Linked DNA regions of Homo sapiens: all the other regions are linked to region 1. Evidence: fine-mapped expression QTL. A gene starts in region 1. Each other region holds a variant in brackets. All regions are shown on one strand. Distances are between the middles of the regions.

Evidence for each region. PIP is the estimated chance that this variant, and not a neighbour inherited with it, causes the effect.
Region 2: its variant is the best candidate, but not a certain one, in a credible set for the expression of C1orf226 in whole blood (TOPMed, PIP 0.80).
Region 3: its variant is the best candidate, but not a certain one, in a credible set for the expression of C1orf226 in monocytes (TOPMed, PIP 0.80).

The regions. Positions count from the first base shown.
Region 1 is chr1:162,377,624-162,385,683 of GRCh38, reverse strand. C1orf226 (chromosome 1 open reading frame 226) reads right to left here and starts at 3,956. Exons shown (of 2, transcript NM_001085375.2): 1 at 3,466-3,956; 2 at 1-2,502. The coding sequence starts at 3,782. The coding sequence ends at 2,001. RefSeq lists a silencer at 3,011-3,305.
Region 2 is chr1:162,318,349-162,326,408 of GRCh38, reverse strand. The region is part of intron 4 of NOS1AP (nitric oxide synthase 1 adaptor protein); the gene reads right to left. It overlaps LOC124904445 (a long non-coding RNA gene), which reads left to right and starts at 6,921. Exons shown (of 2, transcript XR_007066701.1): 1 at 6,921-7,203. RefSeq lists an enhancer at 6,030-6,599. The variant CT/T (reference allele first, on the strand shown) is at 4,487.
Region 3 is chr1:162,339,447-162,347,506 of GRCh38, reverse strand. It overlaps NOS1AP (nitric oxide synthase 1 adaptor protein), which reads right to left. Exons shown (of 10, transcript NM_014697.3): 6 at 3,531-3,672. MIR556 (microRNA 556) reads right to left here and starts at 4,961; the gene lies at 4,867-4,961. The variant G/A (reference allele first, on the strand shown) is at 3,562.

The DNA of each region.
Region 1 (8,060 bases):
TTTGTGTGATACCCCAAACCATTCTGGGAACACTCAAAGGACCCCGAATGCTAGTCCTGAGACCTCCTCTCTGACATCAGGGTCAGATATCACATCCTTAGAGTGAGAAAGAATGTACACGTAAGCCCTGCTCACTCTACCAGGGCCTGCAGGTGCCCTACTGCAGTGACTCCTACGAGGGAGGGGAGACAGTTTGTGGTGAGCACGTGGTGAAACCTGGCTTTCTGGGAGAAGGAAGACAATGGAAGGCAAGGTAGAAGGGAAAGTGGTGGGAGGGCCATGGCAAGGCCACACAGCTGCAGAAGCAAGCATGCAGGAAGGAACCCACATCCTAGCAATCCTGCTGAGGCTCCTAGTTGTGTAGGAGTTAGCATGGCCATTTTATATGGCAGTGGTGGTGGGAAGGGGAGCAGAGGCTTGGAGATGAGAAGAGCTGGGAAGCAAGCCCTGGGTATCCCAGAGCTTATGGGTGGGAAGCCAAACAATGAATAGAACAGGGGAGGCCACAGGAATCCCAGGAGGAGGATGCCGCACCGCCTGCCCTGGCCGGACGTGCCATTCCCAGCCTTCTCCCAGGGAACCGGCCACCTTGTTCAAGAAAAAGAACGTTCTCCTCTTGCTGCAAAGAGCCCCAGAATTAGGATCACCCCCTTACAGGATCTGCTGGTCACAGGAAGACAGCACAATAGGCCCCTGGTGGGAGACCTAAAAGTGGGTTGCAGGAACCAGTTAAGGCTGGATGAACCTGGTCAGTCCCTTACATGGATCCTGAAGCAGGAAAAAGCCCACCAGCATCAGCATAAAAGAAAGGCAGGCAAGGGCAGGGCGGGGCCGCTCCAGTGAGGTCCAGAGCTGCAGGAGGCCCAGGCAACTTCAGCACAAGCACAAAGCACTTCCACTTAATTAAAACTGGTTTCCCCCCACAGTTCTTCTCACATTCCAATCTTGTACATGCTTCATTCTGGCTCTCACAGCAGGCCCAGGCCCTGAAACGGCATTATTTTAGGCTGCAAGGTGGCCCCTGAAAAGCTGTTCTGATCCCCAGTGGTCGCTCTTCTCTGTCCCATCCTCACTCCCTTCTCCCTGCTTCTGCTCTGGGTTTTTAGCACCAGCTCTGAATGCCAAGACCACCCCCAAGTTCCTGGGCCCTCCCCACAAAACCAAATCAGAGTGTGCTAGGCCGCATCTGCTGGGGCCTGGCTCTCCCTGTCTTCACACACTCAGCAAGAGAAGCCTGATCTTTCCTTCCGTGCAGAATGCCCACATTTTGTGTTCGACATCTGACCAGATGGGAGAAACCTTGGGAACCCTGGGTGGCAGCGTTCAAACCCTGGGTGAACTCTCAAGGTCTCAGGCCTGGTAAGCATCTCCTCTGGCCTCCACCCCAGGGGCAGAGCAAACATGGCAACCAGGGGCCTGCACTGTCCTGGGACCAAGAGGAGCTATGGCTGGGCTGTGGTCAGGGTGTGTGGCTTTCTAGGCCATGGCCTGTCATCAAGCCAAACACATCATTCCTCATCCAGCCTTCCTCCCGCTGAGGCCAGGGGCATCGGACCCATCAAGGAGGAGAGAGAAGGGACAGGGGTGTGGGAGGGAGAACAGCAGGGGAGGAGGCGCATGTAGGGGACAGGCAAAAAGAATTCCTGTAAGATCCATTGTCCTGAGCTGGTGGCCCTGCAATTCACTGAGAAGACAGGACAAGCTCAAGAGTGGAAGAGCTCTAATGTCCAAGGGCTGCAGCCCACTCAGAGGAGGTTACAGAAAATTAGGCTCAAAACGGCATCAAGTCCTTCAGCCATTCTGCGGATAGACTCTTTAACTAGAACTACTCAAGGACTTCCAGTCCTGCAAAATCCCATGATGGACGACTGGCTCTCTGCTGGTGCCTCATACAAGGAAGACAAAGGGCACAGCGGAGTTGAGGCCAGGGCCAGTGTGCGCAGTGGAGGAGAAAGCAGCAGGAAGACAAGGGCAGAGCTCAGCAGGAAAGAGCAGAGGCTCTATTCAAAGGACAGCAGGTCTGGGTGAGGGCCCTCATTGTCGAGGCTGGAGGTCCGTGCCTGAGGAGGGGGGCTGCCATCCTCCCAGGACTCAGCCAGGCTGATGGGGCTCAAGCTGAGTTTGAAGCCATTCCTCTCGATAAGGCTGGGGGAGGAGGCCCTTCTGCACTCAGTCATCTTTAGCTTGGATTCGTCCTGGCTATCCTTGTGGATTAGGTCAGGTACTGACAGGGAAACCTCTCCATTGGGCAGAACTTTGCCTCTCTCTTCTCTTTCCATGGTGGCCTCTGGCTGTGAAGCGTCTGCTGGGACGTCAGGCTGGGCAGTGGGAGCGGAGTCCTGGGCCTGCCCAGGTGATGGCTCTGTCCCATACTCCAGACTGCTGAGGACAGGCTGTGATGAAATCAGCATGTCCTGGGTGGTCTTCAGGGCCCGAGGGGTTCGCTTTCTGGTTATGGGAGGTGGAGGATCCAGCCGAGGAAATGTTTCTTGCAGGACTGACCTGTAAGGTTAATGACAATAAACACACATGCCTTAAGGACAGCAAGACACCAATCCACCTGCCATCTTGCTTCTCCAACTCCAACTGCACTTTCAACCCACCCCACCCAATAACTGCTCTACTCCTTGGGCTCTGGTTCTTGGTTTGGCACATAGGCCTTAGCAATTTCAGCATAACAGTAGCTTTTGGCCTGGTCCATGCTTACTCAGTGTTCAGAGCAGCACAAAGTGCTGGCCTCTAGAAGACAGGATAGAGACCGCTGGTGAAGCTTGTCAAATCAGAACCCAGGCAGTAAGTCCTGTGTTTAAAACAGGGAATGTGAGGGCATTCCCACCTCAGATGCACAGGTGTTTAAAACAAGGCCTGGAAAGAGCCTGTTGGTAGGAGGGGGAAGAACAGGAGGGCTGCTACAGGGGGCTTCTCCCACTGTGCCCTAGTGGGCTGTGACAGGTGCAGGCTTCTCCACAAGCAACAGTCTACGGCAGCGCTTCTCAGCTATGGCCGGGCATCAGAATCTACCTGGGGACCTTCTGGGCAATAGCTGGGTTCAAATCCAGCTCTGCCAAGTACTATCTTTGTGACCTCAAGCTATTTACTTTGTCTGTCTGAACGTGAGTTATCTGCAGGATGGAAATATCATCTACCTCCCAGGGCTGCTGGGAGGGTTAGACAAAATGATGCAACTATAGCCTGCAGCACAGAGCTGAGGACATGGTGTGCACTCAGCAACCTTCAGCAGCACAGAGCCGAGGACATGGTGGGCACTCAGCAACCTTCAGCTGTGGCTGCAGAAGGTGAAGCCAGCTCCCGAGAACGTGGCCTGATCCTGCAGCTTTTCAGTACAGGACAATCTCACACCCCTCCCTTGGGGCTGTTCTCCTGTGCAGACACTGCAGTTTGTCCCTGTACCTTTTCAAGTGGGTCCACAGAGGGGCATGGATGTTGGGCGGGTGAGGGGCTCACCTTTCATCCTCTAGCCAAGCCTCTGGAGCCGCGTCAGTCCCACTGGCCAGCTGTGCTCCTGCAGTCTTGTTGATCTCTGTCACACCCACACTGCCCAGGCTGGAGGGCTCCTTTCTCCTCAGGAAGTCATTCACTTTGGCCCCCATGGCTTTGCCCAGGTTCTTGAGGTGCTGGCTGCTGCCCACCCAGAGTCCTGGCCCCCCAGGCTCACCAGAGCCCAGAGGGGCAGAGCCGGGGGCCACGGGCTTGGACAAGTGGGGGAAGGAGCGGCTGGCCTGGAGCTTTGGAGTGAGGGCTGTGTTCAAATTCTCAAACATGCCGTGGTCAACTATGAACAAAGAGGCGACAGAGAGGCATGATGAGGAAAGGGGAGCGGTACCTGTGCTCTATCATTCAGTTTTTCCTTATCCCACACCCAAAACCTGTAACTTCCAAGGCTTTGGAAATATTCAAGAAAGAGCCAGCAAAGACACTCTTGAACTTTCCAGTGTAGTTTTCTTGATGGGACAGGAACTAGAAATTCTAGCTCTGCCCCACCCAAGTTAATCAGTGACTAATGCTAGCCATAAAAAAATAAAGTTGTTCCTGTAAACCTGCCTCCTTGACTCATGGGCTTGGCCCCTTTACCTTGGAGTCACCACGCCCTTTGGAGTAAAGAAAAAATGAGGATGAAGCAATGAAACATGACATTTTTACATCACCGTAAGCACGTGCTGAGCTCTCAGTGGGTTGGAAGCTGGTGGAGGGATGGCATGGATGAGGCTTGGTGTTAGAAGCTCCCCACTGAAGGCCATGAGTATAGCACATATTCTCCACAAAAAATGGGGCAGCAGCTCCTCAGGTCTACAGAGGTGGGCCTTGAGCGAGTGGGCCAGCTCTTGCAGAGGTGCTAAGTGGTGGTTCAGAATCAGTTCGTACCAAATGGATAGGAACTCGGTGCCAGTGAAGCACGAGGATCCCAATGAACATCAGCTTACTTAATCCTTACAACCACCTAGGGAGGTGGTACATGGAAGGATATCTACCTACAGATGAAGCCTGCAGGACTCCGCGTAATGCAGTGCCGTGCCTGAGGTCACACAGCTAAATACTAGCAGGGCTGGAGCTAGAACTCAGGCCTTCTAACCCACAGCTCAGGGCTCTGTCCACAACTTTGCCCTGCTATAGATCATGGAACAGCTGCCTATATATGCCTGGTACATGGTCCTTCTTGTAGGGATCCTCTTTGGCTTGAAAAATTAACTCAAAGAGCTGGGTATAAACCCATTAGGTTGTAAAGATTTGCAAGGCAGAGAGCATGCCTCATTCATCTTTGTATTTTCAACACCTAGCCTGGGTTTGGTACCTAGCTGTGCTCAATACAGATCTTGAATCGCCAAAACCCATTTTGTAGATAGAAAATTGTGGTGGCCAAGGTGGTAGCTTAAAGGTTTGTTATTGAAATGACTGGAGCTCCAGGCTCTAAGCCATGCTGTCCACACACTCACACTTGGCCATCCTCTCCCTATCTGGAAATCCAGCTCAGTCATCAGGCAGCCAGACCCACTCTGAGGCCTTGGAATCTGGGTCAAGGTTTCTGTCTACACCAACTACCCCAGATATGTTGTCAGTCTGAGGAAAGGAGATCGCTCGATCATTTGATGACTAGGCTCCTTTCCTTGTGAACACCTCTGCTAAGTGTCTATTTTCACTGAGCCTCTTCTAAGAGTAACTGGGGTTAGGGTGTACTTTTTCTTCTGCTGAATTTTTGTGTAAAGCAGTTCTTTCTGCCCTGCACTGCTGTATCCCGGGCCAGTGAAAACCTTTCTTGTGGTTTCAGTGGTGCTATCCTTTCTAGGCCAACTACCTAGGTATGCCATATTCTAAGGGCCTTTGGGTGGCAGGGAGGAAAACCTGTGGGAAGTGAAGTGGAGACTACTCTCTGCGGATGAGCCCTGTGGCCTGCACCACTGCAGGGTGAGGACCTGCCAGGGAACAGCATGACAGCATCCCTGGGACACAGGGCCCAAGCTGGCTGGGCTCCAGATAGACCCACCACACCAGCAGAAGCTTCCAGCCCGCTCCACAGCAAGCAGGGTCATCAACTCCTGATGATTCTCCTAAGTGTGTATCTTGCCACATCATCCACTTTGGCACAATTTGCCTGTCAGGTCCCACATCCTTCTTATTTTCTTTAATCACGTCATCCGCAAACTAGCAAAGAAGATTTGGAAACCAAACCATTTAACTATTTCCCCCCAAACCAGAAAGTACATAGACAACAATGAAACTGTACGAAATGCCCGGGGAAGGCAAATTGCCACCACTTCCCAAATCAGACATTTCCCTGGTGGTCTCCTTATTGGTTTAAAGTGACTTTTCAGAGCAGACATACTCGTTTTTAAAAAGGCAAGCACCAAAAACACCTGTCAAGGTGATTAGTAAATTATAAGCTATTATTATTTTTAAAACACTCTTTGTAATAAACAGAACTCTGGATTATGCACCATTTTGGATTTCCTGTATTTTTTGCTCTCTACCCTTCATAACATAGTCTATAACGCACTGAATTCTTAAGTAATGTAAAGATAGCCTACCATGCACTCCCTTTACCCTTGTCTAAGTCTTTCCAGTAAATACACCTTGTCTTAAAATGGTAAGGTCCTTGAGGGCCATAGCTCCTGAAGTGTTTCTTTATCTTCTACAATGCCCAGCTTAGGGTCTTGCACGATAGTAGGCATTTAATAAGTTTGTTTAATTGAATTTGACTTTTATATGAATTCTTAAAAATTGCATGATGGACTGACATTGTAGGGAAACTGCTCACAAGTCTTTTTCCATTTATAAAAACCACTCAAAACTCCCTCTATGGGAGTGGTCTTCAGGGGCTCTTGAGGTCAGACCCGGATAACTGCCCTTCTATTCAAAGTGAAAGTGGGGCTCTGGCTGGGGGGTCCCTTTATCCCTATGTCTGAGGATGTGCAATGGGTCCCTTTCTTGATGATGACGCTAATGACCCCCACACATTATCTCTCTTGCTTCAGGACTAGAGGCTTGATGGTTCAGAAAATAATGGCAATGGAGGACAGAGAGATGACTGGACCCCAGCCAGGTGGCCCTCCCAACAGTACCCCCCAACATGCACACACCCAAGCAGAGGAGGGCATCTGGGGATGTAAGTCATCCACAAAAAAACAGGATATCTTACCTGTCCGAGAAAGGGGCTCGGAAAGCAGGTGGGAAACAAACAAAAGAAAGACACATTTTACGTAGTGACCAGTCACTTTGAGAGTGTCACCTCCTGCCTGGGCCACCAGCACCAGCATACCTCGGGGGGACACAGCACACAAGACAGGGGACCTGCTACGAGGAGTGGTGTGCACCCTGGAACCGCCAGGCTCCCACAAACTTTTCAGTGACTAAACCAAAACCGGGTCGCATTTTAAAAACTCTACACAGGCACTGAGAGATTCTGCCTCCCATATTTCCCCCCAGTATTTTAAGCTCCCTTTACTTTAAGTCTGAGGTTGCAGTGGGAGAGTCTGAAGTTGGCAGTCGGAGAAATGTGATGGGTCAAGACAGAATGCAATTCCAAGTCCTCGGGGTCCTGTGTGCATCACTCACAAGTATGCTACTGTCCACATGTCAGTCACTGGGTTTTAGCCAGGAAGATGTTCATCCATTCCAGTTTAGAGTCTAAACTAATAACATGGGTAAACCAAGTAGCAGAGAGATTTGCCCAATATCACACAGGTAGCTCATGGCGGAGCAGGGTTAGAAGTCACATAAGCTGATGCCCAGACTCATGAGCTTTCTCTACACCATAATGGACCAAATGAAATTGCTGATACCCCCCAAACTGCCAAAGTATGTGGCTTCAACTTACTTTCCAATACATGCTAATGTTCCAAACCAGGCTATCTGGGAGGAACACGAGGGGAATCATGTTCTCCCATTGTCCTTCGAATGTTTCAGTACCGTGAATAAATACACACAGGAAGACAACTCTGGGCTCTCACGTGCAGAAGCTAACTCACACCTCACTCACACATGCTCGACAGCACTGCAAAACAAGCCCATCACTATTTCCAGAGCGGCCATAGCTCCCCATGCAGCATAAACATACCTGCCATCTAGATCTGCAGCCCTGCTCTGTATCTAGTTGACATGTTGTGATAATCTAGAAAGGGGTGTCTTCAGCTTATCTTCCAAGTGTCACAATCATCTTTCACCTTATTCCACACCTCGTTAGTGCACAAGGTTGTTATAGGACAAGCGAAACGAAGAGGCAACCTTGCCTCTCTGGAGTCCCAGAGTCTCCCCATCAAACTGACTTAAGCAATGAGCAAAATAGTATTGAGTAAGCCACCCATTTGTGCTTTAGTCACTTGCTAAAAAGAGCACCAACCACTGAAAACAATATTTGGCCCCTATTCTTAGGAAATACACATTGAAGTACTTAGGTATAAAAGGACATAGTGTTTATAACTTACCTTCAAATAGTTCACAGAAAAAATTAAGTATATACACATACACATGGGGCAGGGGGCAGGAGGAAGGGGACGGATACAGCAAATGGGGTAAAATGTTAATAGGAAAATCTGGATACAGGGCAT
Region 2 (8,060 bases), 59 kb after region 1:
ACAGCCATATTCCCCCAGGTATTAGCATTCTACCTCTAATGCCCCTCATCTCCATGGGGACTGCCTGCTGACTTTAGGACTGCAGAGGCTGTGAAAGGTCTCCAGTCACCTGCAAGGTTTCCTGAGTCTACATCCATGTTCCTCGCCTCCTGCTCAAGATCCACTGGGTCTCTCCCAGCAAGCCCAGGACCTGCCACGCAATTCTCTCCTGCCATAGCCCAAAACAGAACTTTAGGGTAGAGGATGTAGACTACCAAGGGGCCTTGAGCAAATTATTTTCCTTCTCTCAACCTTCTTCTTTTTTAATCGTTGAAGTGAGAATAATAAAAACATCTTTCAGGGTGATTATAAGGTTCAGATGCGACAACAGATGCACAAATATTCTCTAACCCATGAAATGTTGTACAAATACTTGAAAACTGTGGAAACAAACTTAGAAATGTCAAGTGGAAAAACAAAGAGAAATATTTCTTGTTCTCCCAACATCAGTATCTCTCGGTGGGGCTAGGGGAGTCTCCAGTGTGTGGTATAGAGATTTTTCTCTTGAGGTCCTGGAACGCATGGGCATTCCTAACCCCAAAAGACATGCTGCAGCACAGAGCGAAATGAAACCAGCTGATAAAGATAAGGTACCAAGTCACCTGAAGATGGTGGAGACAAAATCAAGTGGTATTCTTAAGGAAAACCTCTGGGAAAGTAAGAAGCACAATGTGACACATGCAGAAGTCGGAAAACAGAATCAACCTGCTGCTCAAGACCAGATAAATGAGGCCTAACTGTGAAGGCATGGTCCTGGGAAATCCAGCATGACTCCTGGTCTCGGGAAGAAGGGTTCCCTAAGCGTCCCAGCCCATGTGATTCTGGGGGGCCCAATGTGTTATCCTTAGAGGGACTGGGGAAAATATCAGAAGGGGTGGTGGGTTGACGAGAGTCTCCAAATGCTTCACTGATAGAACACCACCAGACACTATAGGAAGAATGCACCCCTTACTCCTATCCCCAGCATGCTGCCTGCCTACTGGTGTGTCTTTTTCTCTTCTCAACCAGCCCTGCAGCATGAACACAGTTTCACACTCCTGTCGCAGCTGTTACTCATTCTTTTCCTCATCTATCTTATTTATTTTTAATTTAATCTTTATATAACATTGTCTCCCATCTTGATCACTGTTCTCTCTTATGACTGCTTTGGTCTGATTATCATTTTCCCCCCACTGTATATACAGGGCTTTTTAATCACATCAGCTGGCTTGCTTTTATTTGAAGTTATTGTAATTTCCATCTTCTTCATTCCTCATTTTAGCCATTCTCGATTTGATGACTACCTTCCTCAGGGCTATTTGGCAAAAAAGAAGGGTAATAAACTCATGAAATGGTGCCTGAAATCCCTCATGGAACTGGTCTCCTTACTTCACAGCCTGACTTCCACAGACACCTGAAGTGTGGGGCCACACTGTCAAGTCGCCCCTTGTCACCATGACTGGGATGTATATCACAGATCTGCTTCATCGCAGCACAGTCTGGAAGGAAGCCTGGGATTCCAGGGCTGGGAGAGACCTCGAGAGACAGTCAAGCTCATCACTTCAACTGCAGGCAGAGAAATGCAAATATAAGAGCTGATTCCTAAGGTTTCTTCAATGAATAAAATTATACAAATGTCTAACTTATTGTTACAAAGATCTACTGTGTGCCTAGAGTAACGAATAAGCAACCAATTGAGGTTTTAAGACCTAGCGAGAGCCAGACAAATGCATCTTTATCTTCTGAAAGTCTAGCTAAGGCACCCTCATGGCCTACATCAGCAGTTAATTTATGTTTTAATTTCACAGCTGTTAAGTTTTTTCTTATGTCCCACTAAAACCTCCCCTGCTTTACTTGAATCAACCACAAACCACCACACAGCACTTTCTAAATGCCAAGTACTGGGATAAATTAATTTCTTCTTGTTCAGTACTTGACAGGGAGGCAAAAAAAAAAAAAAAAAAAAAAAAAAAAGGCTAGTGTCCCTCACAAAACCACTACACAAAAATCCTTTCATATATTTCAAGACTTTAATTTCTCTCCAACACTCATAATTTCTCCAAAATAACCATCACCTGCTATTGGCTGTCAAAAACCAAATCTATTTACACAGGCTGCCAATTTATTTCTTCTGTGTGTCTGTGTTATCTGAGTTCATACATGTAGCTTGTTCACATTTGGGGGGCTTAAACCATCCATCCCACACTTTTCAGGACCCTCGGACTTCCTGAGGGTTGTGCTCAGAGACACAACTTCCCTCCCAGAGCCAGAAAAAAGAGAGAAAATGAACACACCACAAATATTAGGGGCACTAGTTTGACTGGTGTATGCTGGAGGAGCATCATCTAGAAAATTACCTCTTCCTCTTCTCTTTTTTCGTTTATCCTCTTGCTTTCAAGCCAGCAAATACCTTCCTTCAAGTGTTATATGCAGAGAGGCATTAGGCAAAATCTTCCCAGTGCAAAATAATCATCAACAAAGGTTCGCACCCTTCCTTGTCCACTCCCCAGTATACACTGAGATGCCTGTAATTTTGTGGAATAGAAGACCTGACAGAACAGAGCCAAAGGCTCAGTCGAGGTTGCAGCTCGTCTGCTTTCTCAAAACAAGTTAATACTCTGAGCCTTAGTTTTCTTAACTGCAAAATGGGATAAGAAGAGGTTCACAGGACTGTTACAAGAATCAAATGAAATAACTTACATATAGGGTCTGCCGCATAGTAGTTGCTCAAAAAAATCTTTACTAAATTGAAGTGATCAAAGAAGAATATTTGCTAATCTATTGTGTGTTTACCATCTGTCAGGTACTGCTTAAGCACTTTACAGGCAAAAACTCATCTAATCCTCACAACAACTGTATGAAGTGGATACAGTTATTATCTCCATTTTACAGATGAAGAAACAGAGAGGTAACCCCTGTGCATTTTCTTAAGGTCACACAGCCAGTAGTATCTGTATTAATTTCTTAGGGCTGCTGTAACAATTATTACAAGTCGGATAGCTTAAAACAACAGAAATTTCATTTCTCACAGTTCAGGAGGCCAGAAGTCAAAAATCAAGGCTGATTCCTTCTAGAGGCTCTCAGGGAGAATCTATTCCACATCTCTCCTAGCTTCTGGCTGCTGCCAACAATCCTTGGCATTCTTGGGTTTGCAGCAGCGTCACTCTAGTCTGCTCCCGCTGCCTTCCCACGGCATTCTGCCCTGTGTCTCCTCTGTCTCTGTGTCCAAATTTCCCTCTTCTTGTAAGGACCCTGGTCATTGGATTTAGGGTCCACCCTAATCTAATATGACCTCACCTTAATTACATCTGCAAACTCCCTATATTCAAATAACATCCACATTCACAGGTACCGGGGTGAGGAACATATCCTAACATAGCTTTCTAAGGGACATATTTCAACTCACTATAGTATCTGCATTAGAATTGGAACCCTAGCAATCTTCACCAAGTTCTGAAAACTGCTGCACCATCTGCCTGATTAATCATCAGATATCATTTGAATATTGAATGTCATTCATTACCCGTATTACTATTGTTTTCTCTATACCTGGGCTAGAAATTAGTCCCATGTTACATTTATGCCACCTGGAAAGCCTGGATTTTTTTATTCCTCTTATGTTTCCAAGTCCTGGATGTCTTCATAGATGTCTCTATGGTCACCAACAAATTCATTCTCATGTTGGTAAGATTTTCAGGGGACACGTGGGTAAGAGGTGCTGGATTTCTTTATCATCCCTGACTGATTGTCCACTTTCCATCCATGTTTCTTCAAATAAACCAATCCAGGGATATGATACACATCATAAGCACATCTTGTTTTTCCAAGGCAGTTGAGTTCCCACTTGAGCGTCTGAGGATTCCCACCATAACTCCCTCTGTACCTGACTCTAACTCCATACCTCTCATGCCACCTGCTCAGCATGTGAGGAGTCCCATGTGCCATGACGGGAAATGAAGAAAGAGTATCCACCTCCTTCCCCAAGCTTCCCAGGGGTGGGAGCATGCCTGGCTGGCAGGTCCAGATACTTTTCTTTTCTAATATTTTTATTTTTCCAGTTGCTCTGACCTGCCTACCTCATGCTGTATCTGAGGAAGAGGAAGTCAGAATCAGAACTCACCTGAAGGCACTTCCTCCCAGGACTTGAAGATAAGATGACAAGCCACTGCTGGTGGCTTGTGTGTACTCCAGGCATCAGCATTTCTAATTCTCACCTGCCCCACCCTCAGGTCAATGTCCAGGCCATTCTGATTTGGCCTGGGACAACTCACTCTCAATCACAATCTAGTGTCTTTTTCTTTTTTGTGTGTTTTTTAGAAATTATTTTATTATTTTAGATGCAGGGGGTTACATTTGTAGGTTTGTTACACGGATATATTGCGCAAGGCTGGAGTTTGGGCTTCTTTTGAACCCGTCACCCAAACAGTGCACGCAGCACCAACGGGAACTTTTTCAGTCCTTGTCCCCC[CT/T]TCTCCCTCTTCCCTTTTGGAGTCCCCAGTGTCTGTTGTTTCCATCTTTATGGCCATGTGTATCCATTGTTTAGCTCCCATTCGTAAGTAGGAACATGCAGTCTTTGGTTTTCTGTTTCTGTTTTAATTCACTCAGGATAATGGCCTGCAGCTGCATCCATGTTGCTTTTATATATATATATATATATATTTTTTTTTTTTTAATTATACTTTAAGTTCTAGGGTACATGTGCACAACGTGCAGGTTTGTTACATATGTATACATGTGCCATGTTGGTGTGCTGCACCCATGAACTCGTCATTTACATTAGGTATATCTCCTAATGCTATCCCTCTCCCCTACCCCTACCCCACAACAGGCCCTGGTGTGTGATGTCCCCCACCCTGTGTCCAAGTGTTCTCATTGTTCAATTCCCACCTATGAGTGAGAACATGTGGTGTTTGGTTTTCTGTCCTTGCGATAGTTTGCTCAGAATGATGGTTTCCAGCTCCATCCATGTCCCTACAATGGACATGAACTCATCATTTTTTATGGCTGCATAGTATTCCATGGTGTATATGTGCCACATTTTCTTAATCCAGTCTATCATTGTTGGACATTTGGGTTGGTTCCAAGTCTTTGCTATTGTGAATAGCGCCAATGGAACAGAACAGAGCCCTCAGAAATAATACCACACATCTACAACTATCTGATCTTTGACAAACCTGACAAAAACAAGAAATGGGGAAAGGATTCCCTACTCAACAAATGGTGCTGGGAAAATTGGCTAGCCATATGTAGAAAGCTGAAACTGGATCCCTTCCTTACACCTTATACAAAAATTAATTCAAGATGGATTAAAGACTTAAATGTTAGACCCAAAACCATAAACACCCTAGGAGAAAACCTAGGCAATACCATTCAGGACACAGGCATGTTGCTGCTTTTTAAAGGACTGTGTACCTTTACTTCCAGGCCATTGGCAAACCTTAAAAAAAAGTGGGGGAGAAAAATGAACCCATTCCTATTTGACCTCGTTTTGATTTCCAATTACTTTTTTATTTTTTATTTTTATTTATTTATTTTTTTGAGATGGTGTCTCACTCTGTCACCAGGCTGGAATGCAGTGGTGCAATCTCGGCTCACTACAACCTCCACCTCCCTGGTTCAAGCGATTCTCCTGCCTCAGCCTCCCGAGTAGCTGGGACTACAGGCGCGCGCCACCACGCTCAGCTAATTTTTCTATTTTTAGTAGAGACGGGGTTTCACCATGTTGGCCAGGATGGTCTCGATCTCTTGACCTTGTGATCCTCCCGCCTCGGCCTCCCAAAGTGCTGGGATTACAGGCGTGAGCCACCGCTCCCGGCTCCAATTACTTTTTAAAAGTCTTGTATCTTTCTTTTGGCAATGTGGGGAGGGGGTGGTTGGAAGGCAGCATGTAAGGACCCTTCCTCTTCTCTTTTCTCAAGTTTATCCTTTTGCTTTCAAGCAAACGAATACTTTCCTTCAAGTGTTATATGCAGAGAGGCATTAGGCAAAATCTTCCCAGTGCAAAATAATCATCAACAAAGGTTTGTACACTTGCTTGTCCACTCCTTGTCCACAAAGGGTGGAGAAATGTGAGCAGAAGGCTGTGAAGGAGGCAAGTCCTTGCCTGAGAATTCCTGTTATTTTCATCTGCTGTATGCCAGAAGCTCTTTTCTCATTGTCTCCCCACCACCGAAAAGCAGGTGTCGGGGTGGTCCAGCATGACCTCTCTTCTAAGATACGCACATCTTACTCCGTACCCCGCCCCCCTTGGCCCCATATTGGCTTCTCCAAGATACAGAGCTGAGTCTGCTTCAGAGACTGCCCTGAGGAGCTCAGGGGGTACAGACAGGGTGTGGCAAGTGCGGACAGAGGAATGGAGCCAGTGAAACGCGGAGGAGGATGCAGCCAGCTGCCTGTGGGAACTGGGAAGGCACACAGGGAGCTGCTGCCTGAGCTGTGACTCGAAGACAACGTGGGAGGTGGCAGGATTGTGGGGTGGGGAATGTGTCAGTCAGGGTCCTGGCAGGAAACAGAGTATGTGAGTAGGCTGAAGAGAGTTTAATACAGGACTGTTCACAAAGGTGAGGGCAGTGCAGTGTCCCTGGGAGCCCTCAGCACCCCAAGTCCAGAGAGGCAGGGCAGGGAGCAGTTTCCAGAGCCAAGAGAGGAAGAGCTGTGTGCCATCTGGCAGGAGCTCTCAGGACAGGTCTACACAGGCCAGCCTCCCTGGGCACTGAGGACAGTGGGGAGGGCTGCTGAGCAGATCTGGGACAATGGAAATCTATCCATCACCGAGACAGAAGAGCAGGGAGAGCCCTTGCAATGGAAACTGCATGTGGAAAGGCATGAGGTCATGAGGTAGCACAGTTTGCCTGGGTACAGGGATTGCAGGGCATACAGAAGGACTGGTGGGAGATGGGGACAGAAGGAGGTCAGGGCCAATTGTGGAGAGCCCAGCTACAGAGCTCAGACTTCACCTTGTGGGCTCAGGGCAAGGATGGGAGTCTAAGCAGGGGGATCACATGGCTGGTAGTCATGGTGGTGTGGAGGATGGATTGGAGGAGGGCAGGAGCAGAAGGAAGGCCACCAAGAGCCTACTGCAATACAGAATGCTTAGGGGAATCAACAGAATCTGGACCTGGGGCTTGCTGTCAGAAGAACCGGACTCAAATCCCCATTCTGCTGCTTACATTTGTGAGCTACTGGGTGAGTCTTTCAATGCTCAAGTTTTAGTTTTCTCATCTACAAACAGGGGAGCTGTTGTGAGAATTACAGTTTGGGAAATAAGTGCAGGGCACCTGGGCTCAGGGCCCTGAATGACACACCTGGAGCGATGCACAGCACAGTCTATGCAGCCAGACAAACCAACCCTGAGTCCAGGCAAGAAACACTGGAGGCCTAACAAAGGCAGGGGCAGCCACCATGGGGAGAGCAGGTGGACACAAGAATCATTTCTCTGGGTGTGATAATGAGAGGGAAGGATATGATTCTGAGCTGTGTAACTTGGCAGATGGACTAAACATTAATGGGGTCAAGGGCCACAGAAGGAAAAAAGAACTAAGGAACATGGAAGGAGGAGGAGTGGTGTGGCTCTGGACAGGTCAGATTTGAGAAGGCAAAAGCCAGATGGAATTGTCTAAGAGGCAATTGGAAATAAGGGATGGAGGGGATAGAGTGTGGGGGCAGAGGAGCATAGACTGGGATTTAGAGGGTGGTTGAAGCCATAGGAAATACGACATCCCCTGAGGATCAAGAAGAAGAAGAAGAAAGGGGGCTCATTGAGAGAATCCCACTAACAGTACCCATTTAAATGGAGGGCGTAATAGGAGGAGTCAGAAAAAAAAATACTGAGCAGAAAAAGACCAAGAGATCTGAGGAGGAACAAGAGAAAACAATCGTGGAAGCTGAGGGAGCAGAGAGTCTCCAGAAGGGTGGAAAGACCCACAGCATTAAGTGCTTCACAGAGACTGAATAAGATGCAGACAGAAAGCGAGCCAGGGATTCTGCAACTAAGACATCCCTGGTGGCCTTAGCAAGAGCAGTCTCAGTAGAGTAGCTCAGGA
Region 3 (8,060 bases), 38 kb after region 1:
GGTTCTGATTAAGTACTTGGAGATTAGATTAAATTCCTCCGATGGTTGTTCTGTGATAATAACAGTGTTCAAACATTCAACCTCTGGGCATCCTCTCTGCGTCCAACCGCTTTCACTCCAGGAATAGGTGTCTTCACCAGAGAAAATATCCTTTACTTTCTGGTTAAACTTTCTTTGTACATGTGTATACTGGCTGCCAATGTGACTGTGGGTTTAAAAGCTTCTGAGAGTTAGGATGTGGCTCTCTGCCAATCAGGCCACCAACGGGGCATGGGCATGACCAAAGAAGAGTTAACAATGTAAGACTTCAATCTTCTCCAGCTAGCAGTTCTTACGGCAAATCCTCCAATTCAGAAATGAGCAGATTGGTTTCTGTTCTTTGAGCCAAGCAACCAGCTAGAGGTCTGATGTGTCCTCCATATTAGTTATAGGAAACTGTCACCATTACGCTCTAAAAATTGACCAGCAGAGATATATAAAATATTCGCCAAAGTCTATCTATCTCTCTGTTTTATCTCTAAGCCCTAGATCACAGAGATGGAAAAATGTTAAGGTTTACATCACATTAGTACTACGGCCTGCTAAAACTGAGACTGGCCAAGGGTACATGACCAAATGCAAGGCTCCGTCTGTGTGATAATATTTTATGAGTCAAGATCACTGAGATGCTGTCATTAGTAATAGAATGTCACTACTTAATAGAAATGAGTAAGCCAAAAGAGAAGTAAAGTAATTCCCTCTAGTCACATAGAAACTGAGCACTAGGATGAAAATAATGTCAGGTTTTCAAGATTTATAACTAATATATATCCAAAGTATAAAGGCCATAAAAGTACAGTGAAAAGTCAATCTTCCTGCCACCTCAGCCACCCAGTTCCTTTTCCCAGGATGAACCACAGTTACCAGTTTCTTGTGTACTATTCTGGAGATATTCCATGCATAAGAAATGTGTGTGTGTGCATGCATGTGTATACATATATACCTACATATACACACACATTTAAATCTATACATTTTTAATACAATTGGTAGTACCTCATACCCACAATTCTATTTTTTTCCTTTATTCACAATTCTAAACTTTGACTTTTTTAAGTAAGCAAAATATCTTGAAGATGGCTTTAAATCAGTTCATAGAGAACTAACTTATTCTTCTTAATAGTTGTGCAGTATTCCATTATTTGTACCATATTGTATTGTAATTTATTTAAAAGTTCCCTCTTGCTGTTTCTGATCCTTTGGTTCTATAACAAATTCTTTGCTATGTAACCTTATATAGAAATCATTTCACACCTTTATGGGTTTACCTTTAGGATTCATTCTTAGAAGGGAATTTGAAGGAAATTTGGGGGTCAAAAGGCATATGAATTTTCAAATTCAATAAAGATTTCCACATTTTTCTCCATAGGGATTCCCTCTCTATCATACACTAAATTTGCAAACACATCTGGGTTTGTATATGAGTTTCCATTCTGATCCGCTCAGGCACTTATTTGAACATGAGTTTTACCTATTATAAGCACAGTTTTACTGGAAAGCCACTCCTCCTCTGCTATCATTCATCTTTTCCAGGATTTTTTCTATTCTTGTTTTTTTAAATTTTCACATATTTACTTAAAAATAATAGCATACATGTATGTGGTGCATACTCTGTGCCAAGCACCAGGCTCAGCATTTTAAAAGTATCAGTTTATCTAATTACGACAATAATTCTGAAGTGCACAGTACTACTATTTCTGTTTTTCAGAAGAGTAAACTAAAGCACAGAGAGGTTATGGAACTTGCCCAAGATCACACAGGCAGTGACTGGTGCAGCTACAATGCAAAGCAAAGGTCTTCTCTCTGAGCCACTTTGCAATGCTGCCATTTGCAGACTAGCATTTCTTTTGTTGTTTTTTAACTTTTTGAGTGGGATGCTTAATTCATTTGACTTTCATGATTTGTCATCTGTTAACGTAAATAACTAAACCTTTGAATTTTCCTCTGAGTGCTGCTTTAGCTATATCCCATGAGTTTTGAATACTGTAGCTTACTGTGGTACCTCTTTTGCTGTTAGAAATCATCATTCTCAGTAAACTATCGCAAGAACAAAAAACCAAACACCGCATATTCTCACTCATAGGTGGGAATTGAACAATGAGATCACATGGACACAGGAAGGGGAACATCACACTCTGGGGACTGTTGTGGGGTGGGGGGAGGGGGGAGGGATAGCTTTGGGAGATATACCTAATGCTAGATGATGAGTTAGTGGGTGCAGCGCACCAGCACGGCACATGTATACATATGTAACTAACCTGCACAATGTGCACATGTACCCTAAAACTTAAAGTATAATAATAAAAGAAAAAAAGAAAAGAAATCTGTATTGTCATGTTAAATTTATAGATAAACAAAGAGAGAATTAACATTTTTATGATGTTGAGCTTTCCCATCCAAGAATATGGCATGCCTTTCCATTTGTTTAAGATTTTTTCGTAGGTAACAAACACATTTTTATTGTGATTATTCATAAGTATCTTTTTTTTTAATTGTTATTTTAATGGATTTTTTTCCTCCACTATGACTTCTAACCAGCTGTTCTTGGAATATATGAAAATCACAAATATAGCTGTATGTGTTATTGAACTTTGACTTTCTAGCTGAATTCTCTTATTATTTCTAATAGTTCTCAGTTTATTTTCTTGGGTTTCCCATGTTAAAAATTAACATAAACAATATTTTTTTTATCTGCTCTTTTTCTTGCCCATACTTCATTTTTTCACATTTATTGTCTCCTTCCTGACTTTTTTTTTTTTGAGGCAGCCTAGCTCTGTAGCCCAAGCTGGAGTGCGGTGGCACAATCTTGGCTCACTGCAACTTCCGCCTCCTGAGTTGAAGCAATTCTCCTGCCTCAGCCTTCCAAGTAGCTGGGACTATAGGCGTGTACCACCACGCCTGGCTAATTTTTGTATTTTTAGTAGAAAATACAGGCAACATGGCAGGGATTTGCCATGTTGGCCAGGCTAGTCTTGAACTCCTGGGCTCAAGTGATCTGCTCATCTCAGCCTCCCAAAGTGCTAGGATTAACAGACTTGAGACACTGCGCCCGGCCTCCTTCCTGACTTTTAATGAGGCTTGAAAGTTGGGGATATTAAAATACTATCCATATTGAGGGCTTATAGAACTACAGAAGTTAGAAATTTAATAAAACAAACTAGGTAATTATAAATTTATGTTCTTTCTAATTTGTTTTATGGGGGTGCTTTTTTACTGAAAACTTCTTTGAAGTCAGATTTGGTAGTATAGCAGCTCTACCTCTCCCTGATATCCAGTTTAAATACTTCCTCATTTAATAATTTAAACATCTTTAATTTCTGTTATAAAAGTAATACGTGTTCCTTAAAGAGAATCTAGAATTTAGAGAGAAACGGAAAAAATAAAATGTTTCTTAAAATGAGTTCACAGCCTGGGGGTCAGGGCAGTGATCCACCAGAGCCTACTGTGTGCACTGCCTTCCCACCCACATCCACAGAAGCCGCAGTGCCTACCTGGGTCTCCTGAGCTGTTGCTGTTCCTCTC[G/A]CTCTCTCCATCTTCCTGGCCATCTGCATTCTGCTGCGTGTGCTGCAGGCTCAGCTTGTGGCAGACCTCAAAGGCCTGCCCCACCGTCCGAACGATTCTCATAGCTTGGCTCTGGGAAGGAGAAAGGAGAAGAACAGGATGGGTGAGGATGCGCAAGGGGCATGTGGATAGAAACTCATGAAGCAGCCAAAGAAAGAGACAGAAAAATCTAAAGTTGTTCAGATATGCACATACAAATGAGTGCAAAGACATTTCCCCTTTCTGAAATACTCCAGAAAACAGAAACTGTCACCACAGTGCTGAAACAATCAGTCAACTGAAAGGACAGATAGCAAATATGCCAGTTATGGACTTAGCCCCAATTCTTCCCTCCCATGTGTAACAGAAGTAGTCAATATGCTTCAGAATCTTTTGCCAGCCATGATAAAATGTTCAATGGGTCCATCAAACTAAGAGGAACTCGGCTATCATTTTTTTCTTTTTTGAATGCTGCTGCAAATGTTGAGTTTCCCTGGAGCTCCTGCAGACCAAGGGCAGTGGTAACATGAGGCTTGGAAGCCATGGCCTAAACAGCAGAAACCAATGGAAGCTCAGCACCCAGCTCCTCTGGAACACCACTAGTTGGCAGCCAACTAAATCTAAGGTGACACTTTCCCAGACTTACTCCAAAGACCTCACGTTCTTGGGTCTATTCTGTGGCTCCTTCCTTTCTTTTGTTTTGGTATTTAATCTCTTGCTTTAAGAGCCCAAGAAGAGAACTTGACCCTAGTTCCCAGTATTCCACCATTTAACTAGGAGAAGAGAGAGAGGACAAAGAAGCCTGCTCCTATGTAGAGTCTTAGGCCACCCATGCAGGCTGTGAGGAAGAGCCACATGCAGGGGTTCCAGGGCATGGCCTCAAAGGTGGATAACTGATTATGGTTTGAAGATGTCAGCTTTTGCTTTCTTTCAAGGACAGAAATGAGTGATGTGGTTTATTTAGAGTTTCAGAGCTCAGGCTGGGAAGGGCTCAGCACACTGCTTCTCTTACCTCAGTGGGCCTCAAGCATCCCACCACCATGGGCTACAATTTAATCTAATTGTGATTGTCACCCTATACTCAAGTCTAACATTCATCGTGTTTTGGATGATCTGACTTCAGGTCAGCCATGGCCACCTGTTGACACCATATAGTCCATCAATCACATCCACCTCCCACCCACCCCAGGTAATGGCAGCAATCAAGTAGGGCTTTTCATCAGCATGAGGTAGCTGGTATTACATTACCTAACTGATATCCAGTGTTTTGATAAGTCTAGAAGGCCTTGTTGAAGGTAGTAATAAAAAAGATGAGCTAATGGTAATATGAAATGTATAAATGAAGCTCATATTACAATGAGCTCATCTTTCTTATTACTATCTTTGTGAACTCCTAGGGACCTTGGAACCCTGTGCATGGAACAACTGCTGTAGTCCATTCTCTGCTGGGTATAACTTCTAGAATTGCTTCTCCTCAAGCCTGGAGTCATTTCTATGTTCCTTCTGCTTATTTCAGGCCAGAGCATCCATATTAATGTGAAAGGCATCTTGACTAATTATCATCTACATGTCAATTTGAGATCTCAGTCAACTCTACTGCTCCCTATATTCTTCAGTTCAAATCTACTCCTAGAAGTAATTGTTTTACAGCTCTAACCTTTCTTAGCCATTAGACTAACTCCAGAGATATTCTCCATTGGTCTCTCACCTGAAATATCCTGACACTTCTGGGAGATAAGAACCTTAAGCGAAGCAGGAGGAGATGGGTAACTTCTGTGGGGTCCACCATCACCCAGTGGCGAATCAGAACCTCTGTTTTCTACATCTACCCTTAATTTCCTCCTGTGTCCACAGGGCAGGCTTAGGCCCCTTCTCATACCATAGGCTTGCAGTGTGTAAGACATGACTGTTCTATCTGCACAGGAAGTTGAGAAGCAGTAGGCATCAGTCCTAAGCAAGAAGCCCCTACACTTCCCACTCCCAAAACACACAAAAAGGCGTGATTTAGAAGACACAGTCCCTAACAAATGTGGGCTAGGAACACTCCAGCTTTCTACATTTCCTTTAGCCACCAAGCTGTGCTGTGCTTAGGAGGCTGTGCCAGGAAGCTTAACTCTCAGGTGAAAAGGGAGAAGTAAAGGCTCCTACATCCGAAACTGTTATTCCCCTAGGCCTTGAGATTTTTTGGTTCCTATTCCTTTTATGAGAGTAAGAGCAGACTGCCTATGGTTAATCGTCTACGGCAAAGCTCGTTACTAGTTTACTAAACCTTAGGTATGACTTTATTCTGCCTACCACTGTCCTACCAGTGTCCACTATACAGAAACCTTCCTCTACTTTCTTCTCTGACTCTTGGGAATTTTGCTCCCCCAGGTATCTTTACAAAAGGTAAAAAAGGTAAATGTTTTAGGTTGTAACAATAAAATATGGTAAGTCCAAATGATATGTAGAGATTAAGTGTTTAATTCCATTACTTTCTTCTCTTACATGAATTAACCCAGATATCTCATACTGAATAAATATCTGCAAAGACTGAGTTAGTCTTTTCCCGTCGGTTTCATTCCCAGGGTACAGATTAAAATACAGTTCCCCCTTTAAAATACAGTTATATAGAAAATTCTAAATTCACTACTGAGTTTGTTCCTATAACATCTCAGGTTTTCCTAAGGAGGACGTGTTACAAATTCCATCATCTCTGTAAATCACAGATACTTCCTTTAACCAGCTTTTAAGATGATATTAAAAATTTAAAGATCCTCAAACAAATGTCCCTGATCTATGGGATTAGACAGGGGTAGGAATCGAATTTCTAAATTTATCTTTGGAAGGAATCCCTCAGATTTAAATAAGAGGATAAAGGTGGTGGGAGAATGACTTCACAGAGGACCTGTATTTCTCAGGCATCACAAGATGACAATGGATGATGGGCTATGCTCAGAACTGAGCATCTTAAGAATATAGACTCCAGCTCAAATCTCTATTCTGCCACCTTTATCAAGGACAAACATGTGCAACATACTCACATATTCAACCATCTATAAGCCCAAAGTGGCTGTAAGGAAGTAGGCTGGTTTTAATGGTTAATATTGATAACACTTCATTTTCACATTTTACTAGTATTTTTTACTAGGATCAGCAGCTGACCCTAACCTCTACCTGATTCCCCTGAAAAAGTAGGAAATGCAGACTTTAGGTTTACTGGTTCTGCCTTCCCCATGCTGGAAAGGGCATCCCATCCTTCAGCCTCCCATTTCCTTCCTATCCTCCCTCCACCCGTTGTTCTCTACGGTATTTCTGTAACTGCACTGAAAAACTGAATATATGATAGCACCTACCACAGTGCCTGGCATATAGTAAATGCTCAAGAAATGTTTTATCCTGACTATGGAATTCACTGCACCAAGAGGCAATTAAGACAGAAAAGAAAAAGCAGTGCAGGAAAGGTGGAACAATTTTTATCATAGTAGAAACATAAAGCGACTAAGGGAATCACCTCTTACTTATGTATGCTAACATCCAAAAGGCTGTGCATCAGATAGCATAGCCTCCACCATAGCAGCACAGGAAAATTCCTGAGCCAAATGGATCTTTGGTCTGAGCTAGTATGATAGTTTCTACATGTGAGGAAATTGTTGCATTAAGAGTTCTAGATCTGCATACTGAGTGGTAAACAGTTTAATAATTAAATTAATAAATTAAATGGTTTAATTTATCCTTTATTTTACTCCTTTAATGTGAAGGTTATATTTCTATTCACAGTAAAAGGACACTGTAGCATGTTTCATAAAGAGCCCTCTGCACTGGAACACATAATCAAGCTACTCTAACTGTTTCACAGAATGACTACATACATACACATAAAAGAATTGCCCTTCCTATCTACCACTCAGGGAGTCAGAAGGGGCTAAACAGCTCCTCACTGTACTCATAAATGGCTATGTGAGTTCTGATGTCCCTTGACCTTTTAGGCTCTCCTTGCTTCACCATTAAAAAGTCTACTTTTAGAGGATTCTATATGGGGACCTCGTTAGGGAGGTGATTACTTAAAGGTGGTCAGTAGAGGCAGCCTGTGCCTGGGAGGGGCTGTGTCTTCACCATCTGCTTTCTGCACAGCCATGCTGGCTCCTGCCTGCTAGGCCTACCCCACTTAGTTACCCCACCTTCTGGCCTGCAGGGCAAGAAAACTGGTTCTGCCTTCAACCCCAAAATGCAAGAATCACACACGCTGGGATTTTATCATTAATTAGCCATGTCTGCACCCAAGAGGGAGAACTCTGGTAAATAGCAGCTTTAAAAAGTCCCTTCCAGAAGTTTTTATGAATGCTTGTCTGTGGGTCTTCTAGATCACAGTGAAGCAGTTGCTCCCACCTCATGACGACATACAGGCCTTTGGAGACTAAAGCAGAGGTTTAAAGATTGAAGGCAGTGAGGTACAAAGGGTAAACAAGTGGAACCTTGAGAAAGCAGCCTTTTTGAGTTCC